Linked DNA regions of Homo sapiens: regions 1 and 3 are each linked to region 2. The links come from fine-mapping of genetic effects on gene expression. A gene starts in region 2. Each other region holds a variant in brackets. All regions are shown on one strand. Distances are from middle to middle.

Region 1 (2,760 bases), 92 kb before region 2:
AGTTCTTCCATAGGTTGTCAGAAATTCCTTTTCTGTTTAAAAAAACTCCAAAGAATTTCAGGAGTGGTAGCATAACTCCAAAGACGTGGGCAGTTGAGGCAACTGGAACAGGAAGAGGACCAGTGAGTTGCCCAATCTCACCAGAAAAGACATAAAGCCAGCAAGAGATGCCACATCAGGTGACTTCTTGTCCACGCCTTTTTCTCATTGTTTTTAATATTCATTGCTACTATATTGAGTTTTCTTTACATTTTACACAATTCTAAAGCTATGCTATGTTGGAAACCCTGGAAACATGTGTAAAGGACTTCAGATTAGAGAACTTGAAATGCATAAAGACATGGCAATTACATTTTAATTGCTTACTTGAAACAGCAGTTATCTTCACACGGAAAACTAAGGGAGAGCAGAGAAATCAACTAAATCCTGTTTTTGGCTTCAAGAGGGTTATTATCCTGAATCTCTTTTATTGTGGTAAAATACACATAAAATTTTCCATTTTTAGGTGTACATTGTGTCATTAAGCACATTCATGTTGTTGTGCAACTGCCATCATCCATCTCCAGAATTTTTTCATCTTCCCCAAATACAACTCCATTAAACACTAACTCTCCATTCCCCCCTCTCCCCCAGCTCCTGGCAACCATCAGTTCCTGGCTGTATGAATTTAACGACTCTAGGAGCCTCATGTGAGTGGAATCATAACAGTATACACCCTTTTATGTCTGGCTTATTTCACTTAGCATGGTATCTTCAAGGTTCATCCATGTTGTAGCATATGTCAGAATTTCCTTCCTTTTAAGGCTGAATCATATTCCAATGTAGGTATACACTACATTTCATTTATCTACTTATCCATCAATGGACACTTGGGTTGCTCCTTTTAGTTATTGTGAATCATGTTGCTATAAACATGGGTATACAATATCTGTCAGAGTGCCGCCTTTCACATCTTTTGGGTATGTATCCAGAAGTGGAAATGCTGGATTATACGGTATTCCTAGGTTTAATTGCAATCTTACCATCTCACATACTTCACCTAAACTGAAAAATGTAACGAATATACCAACCAAACACACACTGTGTTTTAAGCAAGGCAGTGGAAAAACCCCATTGGATCTGTCTTGCATCACTTCTCTCTTAACCTGCTGGAACACCTTACGTCTATGAAATGCCTTGAAGATGCCAAAGACCTCCAGGTCCAGGCAAGCTTCTGGAGCTCCTGCTGCAGACTAAGCCTCAGCCTTCTTGTTTAGAGGAAAGGGGACCCAGCATGACTCTGTCCGTAGTGCAGGGTGACTGCAAATGACACCCAACACTCAGTTCTTCAACACCCCACAGGCCTGGTTGTAGATTTTGAGGTCAAGGTTGGGTAAGTATAAAACCCAATGAATTTTT[A/G]TAAAACTAGTAACGGGGAAAACAGGAAGATCAGGGAAGGTGGTGAAATCTTCACCAAGGCCAATGATTGCACAACACATAACTTCTTGAAGCACTTTTTTCCACCTGCTCAAACACTAAACATAAGGAGTGTTTCAAATTACTTGAGGATTCACCAATCCCTAACTTTCCCTTCCTAAAAGTTCTTCCAGAGTTTCTGTCAGAAATTCCTTTTAAGAAAACTCCAAAGAATTTCAGGAGTGGTAGCATAATAACTGGGGAGACCCCTCTCTCTAATTAATCAAAAACGTAGTGTAGCTTATATAGCTTAGAGAAATTGTGGATCTATGAGGACATGTGAAGGTACTGGGCTATAATGTGGTCAATGTGTCTGAAAAAATAACAGTTCTGGGCCAACCAAGTGTGGCTCAAGGGATCACTACTAAGAATGGTTCCTCTTTGGGTAGAGCAGAGGGAAGAGACACTAAAGGGAACTGCAATCACCAGCAAAGGAACACAGTGACCATCAATGTCTGAGGACTGGCACAATGAAGGATAAGAAAGAACCTCTCTGTACGAGGCCTACTCCCTTTCAGTTCCCTTTCTTCCCCATTGTGTCCCAGTGGAGGACCTGATAATACACCTGACCCATATCTAAGACATGCAGTTGGCAGGGCTGATAGTAGGTAAGGTTCACAGTATGTTAAAAAGTCACACGAGGCCGGGTGCAGTGGCTCAATGCCTGTAATCTCAGCACTTTGGGAGGCTGAGGGTAGGAGAATCACTTGAGGACAGGAGTTTGAAACCAGTTTGGGCAACATGGTGAAACACCATCTCTACCAAAAATACAAAATTACATGGGCATGGTGGTGCACACCTGTAATCCCAGCTACTCGGCAGGCTGAGGCATAAGGATCACTTGACCCCGGGAGGCAGAGGTTGCAGTGAACCAAGACTGAGCTACTGCACTCCAGCCTGACCGCAGACTGAGACTCTTTCTTTAAAAAAAAAAAAAAAAAAAAAAGTCACAAATGGTTTTTCTCTCCCTGGCCCCTCTTCTCTCTGTGGTAGGTAGGTTCAAATTACAGCCTAACCTCAGCCATCTCTGTTCTCTTTGCTCAAGCATATGGGTCACTGCTTTGGGTTCCTACACCAGTCAGACATCCACAGGCTCCCAGATACAGACATGAGCCTAGGATGAGGTAATATACCCGATTAGGCTCTGAGCCTAAAACACGTTCCATGAAATTACCTGAGCCTTCCTTGCACAGTACTGTGATCTAAGATCTAACACATAATCAAGTCATGCACTTTGTTTCTTATTTGCTATTGTTACATGTGTACAGTGTCCTTAGGAGTCTACAGGGAAGAGGGATAATTGGC
Region 2 (2,760 bases):
GAAGACAGACTCCATTTGGACTTGGTGAGTTATAGGTGCAGCACCAGCATAATGCGCATGGAAGTCCTGGAATCATTTACCAAGAAGGTCCTGAACACAGGTGAGGGACATCCCCTTCTTCCCTGTTCCCTAAGGCGCCTAGACTTTGGAGTCAGTCAGTCTTGGGTTCCAGCCTCCCGCTAGGACGCAATTTCTTGAGAGCAGGATTCGATCTGTTGTTCACGGCTAGATCCTAAGCGCCTAGAATAGTTTCTGGCACACAGTAGGCACTCAATAAACATTTGCAGAATGAATCAATGAATGAATGGTCACGCTCCATTCCTCGGCTGTAAACACAATGAAATCACCTAGCCGCAAACTTGGCGCACAGTAGGCGCTCAACAAGTTGTATTTTTCCCTTCCCTTGCAGTAGACCGCGGTCCCCAGGCGACCGCGAAAGAAAAAAAGGGGTTTCTCTACCTCGCGTGGTCTGCACCTCGCTTCGCCCCCGCAGCCCTCGCTGGGTCGCAGGGAGCACGTGGGCCAGGCAGGCTGGGTGGGAGTGGAGTGGAGTGGAGGGGAGGGGGCGGCGGCCAGCGGCTCGCGCGGAGCCGGTCTCCCGGGCTTACGTAAGGCGCGAGTCCCGCGCGGCCGGCCGGGGCTCCGCGACTGGGCGGGCGGAGGCGGCGCCGCCCTGCAGGATCCGGGCTGGAAGCCTCTCGGAGTGCTGCCTCCAGCCAAGGTGTGTGTTTATTTGATTGCTTTTGGTGGCGAGGCGCGGGGCTCGGGCTCGTCGCGCGCCCCATGGCCGGGGAGCGCATCCGCCAACCCCGGGCGGAGGTGGGCCCCTCCGAGCGCGCGCGGGCGGCGGGCAGCGGCGGCAGCTGAGACTCCGGGGGATGTGACAGCCGCCGGGGAGGGGACGAGACGCAGACCACACGTTGCCCACGTGCGAGGACCGGGCAGGGGCTCAGCCCCTAGGCCGCCCGGTGCGTGGGGCGGCGGGGGCTGGCTTTGAGTCACCCCCGCTTGTGCCAGCTTCCCCGGCTCGGCGGAGACTGGCTTGGGGATGCCTGGCCGCCCGGCCCCCTTCTCGGACGCGGCGTGGGGAGCGAGCTGGAGTTAAGGATGAAGGTGGGACTGGCCGGGCCGACCTCTGACCCCTGGAGGCCGAGTCGGCAGGGCGGGGCACGGCGCGCTTCAGCAGCTTTGCGTGGGGGCGAGGAGGTGGAGGAGGGCGAGGAGGTGGAGAAGGGCGGGGAGGTGTAGCGTGGCGCTCAGTCCGCCTGCTACTCGGTCCCGGCGCTGGGCTGAGGGGAGGGGTTGTCTTAAAAGTCTCTCCTTCCCCCTGTAGGGGCGGCCGGCGAGTCCCAGTGAGAGCGGAGGGTGCCAGAGGTAGGGGGCCGAGAAACAAAGTTCCCGGGGCTTCCTCCGGGGCCGCGGTCGGGGCTGCGCGTTTGACCGCCCCCCTCCTCGCGAAGGCAATGGCTTCCAAACTCCTGCGCGCGGTCATCCTCGGGCCGCCCGGCTCGGGCAAGGGCACCGTGTGCCAGAGGATCGCCCAGAACTTTGGTCTCCAGCATCTCTCCAGCGGCCACTTCTTGCGGGAGAACATCAAGGCCAGCACCGGTGAGGGGCTGCGGGGACGAGGGCCGGGGGCGAGCCGCGTTGGGCTGGGGTGAGGCCCTGGAGGGACTGGGGCTCCCGGATCACGGCGCCCTTCCCCCGCCCGCGTGTGGTCGTGCAGGCTCGTACGTGCCGGGGCGCATGCAGCTGGCGGCCGCGCGGCTTAACCGCGCCTGGGGAGGAGGCCGAGGCTCCAGGGGCGGCCGGTGGGAGGTGCCCACGGCTCCTCTCCACCGCTCCTCCTGTCGCGAGGAATAGCCCGAGCCACCCGGCCGAGGGAACGAGAACTAGGCAGGGAAAACCCGGAGCTTCCGTCTCACGCTGCCCTCCTTAAGGCAGAGCCGTCCCCGTACCCCTTAGCCCTGGCCCCCTCCCCCGAGTCCCTAGAGAGCCGCGCGCCCCCTCCCGCGGGAGCCCAGAGGCGGAGCGCCGCCCACCTGTGGCAGTCGGGCGGGGCCGCGCGCCGGGGAACCTGTGGCGCCGGGGGGCTCGCAGCCTCGCGCCTCTCCAGCCCCTCCACGCAGCCTCGGGCCTCGGGGCAGAGCCCTGGGTGGCTTTGAAAGGCCTGTCTGTTCGTTGTCGCCTTCTAAGGTAAACTCTCCCCAGCAACTCCCCCCCCTCCCGAAGCCGCCGGGCCTGGCCGTCAGGAGACTCGGAGGAGACTCGTTCTGATAAATTACATTTTGTAATGCAGCTTTCCTGGAAATGGCTTCTTGAGCTGCCTCCCTTGGCATGAGATGCCTCCTTTGGCTGGCGTGGTGAACTTGGGGATATATAGATCGCCTGATTTCTTAGTCTGACGGGGTTGAGTGCGTCCCTTTCCCCCTCTCCTCCCACTCCACGTTCACACCAGTTCCGAAAGAATTGGCGTTAAAAGGCGAGAGGTAGCGGTTGTGCTGCTGCGAGGCTCTTAACCCTTCTGGGATGGAGATGCTGGTAATTAGCAACTCCTTTATGAAAAGTTGTTCTTCCCAGCAGGGGTCCTTTACTGTCGATGTACTTCTCAAGGATGTCCGGGCTGGTTATTGCCCATCATGGACTAATTATCCGGAGATCTGCATTTCAGAAGCACAGACTGGCTTGAAAAGGAAGGTGGAGGACAGTACCAGAAAACAAAAGGAAAGCTTAAAAGCAAGGAATTAAGAAGTATCTCCA
Region 3 (2,760 bases), 45 kb before region 2:
TCAGTATTTTGTGAATTTCTTTTTTATTGGGATCTGCTGCTGGAGAATTATTGTTTTCCTTTGGTGGTGTTATATTTTCTTGCTTTTTCATGTTTCCTGTGTCCTTGCATTGACATCTGCATATCTAGCATAATTGTCACTTCTTCTAATTTTTTGAAATTGCTTTGTAGGGGAAGATTTTTCCCTGAAGATGTGTATATGTTGTTGGTTAGATAGGATCATTGGTTGGCCTTGATTTGGGGTGCATGCAATAGCATGTGGGCTATGTGATTTCTTTTTTTTTTTTCTTTTGAGATGGAATCTCACTCTGTCACCCAGGCTGGAGTACAGTGGTGCGATCTTGGCTCACTGCAACCTCCGCCTCCCAGGGGTTCAAGCAACTCTCCTGTCTCAGCCTCCTGAGTAGCTGGAACTACAGGCGCATGCCACTATGCCCAGCTAATTTTTGTATTTTTAGTAGAGACGAGGTTTCACCGTATGGGTTGGACTGGTCTCGAACTCCTGACCTCAGGTGATCCACCCACCTTGGCCTCCCAAAGTGCTGGGATTACAGGTGTGAGCCACCGCACCCAGCCTGGCTGTGTTTCTTCAGCTGTAAATGGCATCAGTGGCATCCATGCTTTTTTGGTGGCTTCAGGTTTGGTTATTACTGGAGTCTGTGGTTAGGTTTTGCTGGAACTAGGGTGCCAAGTGGGCGGGCCAGTGTTTGAGCCCCAGTGGCGGTAGTGGTGGGCCAAGCATGCCTGTTTGTGGGCCTCAGGGGACCTATGTTGGCACCAACGTTAGTGGGTCCTGGAGTGCTGATTCTTAGCCTTCTAGATGGCTTGCTTAAATGCTGGTTGTGGCAACAGTGTGTTGGGCGTATGTGCAAGTTATCAGGCCCCTTGGCAGCTGGTGTGATGTGGGCCATGGCAGTAGCAGTGGTAGAACAAACCCACTGGAGTCCAGGAGGTCCATGGTGGTGTTGGTAGTGGCTGTGACAGGTTGTGCAGGCTAGTCCCTCTGGTGATACATGCAGTTGGGTAATAGCTGTGGTGGTACATGCTGTTGGGTGATAGCTGTGATATCTGGTCCCTGGTGATACATCCAGTTGGGTGATAGCTGTGGTGGTATTGGCAGGTTGGGTTGACCCAACCTCTGGATAGCACACTTGAGTACTGGTGGAAGGAGACCAGGCTGGTAGACATGTCCTCAGTCCCCCTTGGTAGTGCATTCAGGTGCTGGCTGCAATAGGAAGGGGCAGCGTGGCTCAGATGTGGGCAATGGTGACCACACTGTGGGCCTGCCACCATTGAAGGTGGAGCCTGTCTCTGCTGGAGCAGCCAAGGCAGGTAACTGTGGGCAGTGTAATTTGCTCATGCCTTGGTCCCACAGCATTCTGCCACAGCAGCAATGGGAATTTTCCTTGGGGTACATGGGACCGCCTAGCCTCCCCTCTCCCACCTTAGCCCAGTGATGACAGCGACAGCCCAGACCCTAGGGCAGGATGCAGACCTTTGAGAGCTTGGTTCTCAGAATAGCACCAAGCTGCAGCTGCTTAGGACATGGATGCCTGTGGGACTTTGTGTGTGTTCCCTCTCTGGAGCAATGCCTCTGTGCCTTTTTTTTTTTTTTTTGAGTCAGAGTTTTGCTCTTTTG[T/C]CCAGGATGGAATGCAGTGGCATAATCTCAGCTCACTGCAACCTCTGTCTCCCAGGTTCAAGCAATTCTCCTGTCTCAGCCTCCCAAGTAGCTGGGATTACAGGCACCCACCACCGTGCCTGGCTAATTTTTGTATTTTTAGTAGAGACGGGGTTTCACCATGTTGGCCAGGCTGTTCTTGAACTCCTGACCTCAGGTGATCCACCCACCTTGACCTCCCAAAGTGTTAGGATTACAGGTGTAAGCCACCACGCCCGGCCTCTGTGCAGTCTTTAGGCAGCTCCCTATGATAGTCTCAAGGCCCATGTGGGTTGGTTCCCCTATAGCTAAGACTATAAAAGGCTGTGGTGGGAATGTGGAGCCTTGGGGCTCTTTCTTACCCTTTTCCCATATCAAGGGGCTTTTCCTGGCTCCCAGCTGATCCGAGCCAAACAAACTGTCTTGCTTCCATCTCCTAACTTGCTTTCAGTGCTTCTCATCACTTCTCTGTTGAATCTCCGTATTCTCTCTCAGATCATCTAGTTGAATTCTATTTATTTATTTTAGAGATGGGGTCTCATTGTGTCACCCAGGCTGGCCTCAAATTCCTGGACTCAAGTGATTCTCCCACCTCAGCCTCCCAAGTAGCTAGGACTACAAGTATGCACCACCATGCCTGGCTTACTTTTTATTTGTTTTCTTTAGCTAGCATTTATATAGTGCCTATTATAGTCCAGATGCTATGGTAAAAAGTATACAAGTATTAGCTCATGTAATCCTGTGAAATAAGTATAGTTATCCCTGTTTTACAGATGAGAAAACAGGCACAGAAAGTGCCTTTCTTAAAGGCACACAACTAGTACTGGTGGAGCTGAGATTCCACTCAGGCTGCATGGCTCTAGAGTCAGTGTTCTAAGCCACTTGTGGCTTGAAAAATAGAACCTATTTGTGCAAGACATAACCTTTATTCAGCCTGAACCCAATGCTAAATGCCTACATAGACTTGTGGACTTTTTGCAATAATGCTAATGGAGCCAAGGGGTGCAAGTTGGAGACTGGCAGACTAGAGGACTTTTAATCTCTGTTTGACTCTAAATTTCATAATCCCAATAGAATTTTTGTAAAGGAGGTGGGAGTTAAGGC

Alleles and levels. Positions count from the first base shown, and alleles are read on the strand shown. Sizes are in standard deviations (SD) of each study's normalised expression. Not every link is listed here.
For the expression in subcutaneous fat of the gene that starts at base 1,259 in region 2, allele T in region 3 goes with a lower level than allele C (moderate effect, 0.44 SD a copy in TwinsUK).

The links. PIP is the estimated chance that this variant, and not a neighbour inherited with it, causes the effect.
Region 1: its variant is the best candidate, but not a certain one, in a credible set for the expression of AK4 in whole blood (TOPMed, PIP 0.68).
Region 3: its variant is the best candidate, but not a certain one, in a credible set for the expression of AK4 in subcutaneous fat (TwinsUK, PIP 0.85).

What each region holds. Positions count from the first base shown.
Region 1 is chr1:65,054,545-65,057,304 of GRCh38, forward strand. It overlaps a transcript of JAK1 not described here. Among named protein-coding and RNA genes, the nearest start is that of MIR3671, 1.9 kb to the right of the region's middle. The variant A/G (reference allele first, on the strand shown) is at 1,399.
Region 2 is chr1:65,146,945-65,149,704 of GRCh38, forward strand. AK4 (adenylate kinase 4) reads left to right here and starts at 1,259. Exons shown (of 5, transcript NM_013410.4): 1 at 1,259-1,608. The coding sequence starts at 1,464. RefSeq lists silencers at 426-665, 676-1,175, 1,556-1,855, 1,916-2,195 and enhancers at 1,789-2,507, 2,508-2,760.
Region 3 is chr1:65,102,444-65,105,203 of GRCh38, forward strand. No RefSeq gene overlaps it. Among named protein-coding and RNA genes, the nearest start is that of AK4, 44 kb to the right of the region's middle. The variant T/C (reference allele first, on the strand shown) is at 1,639.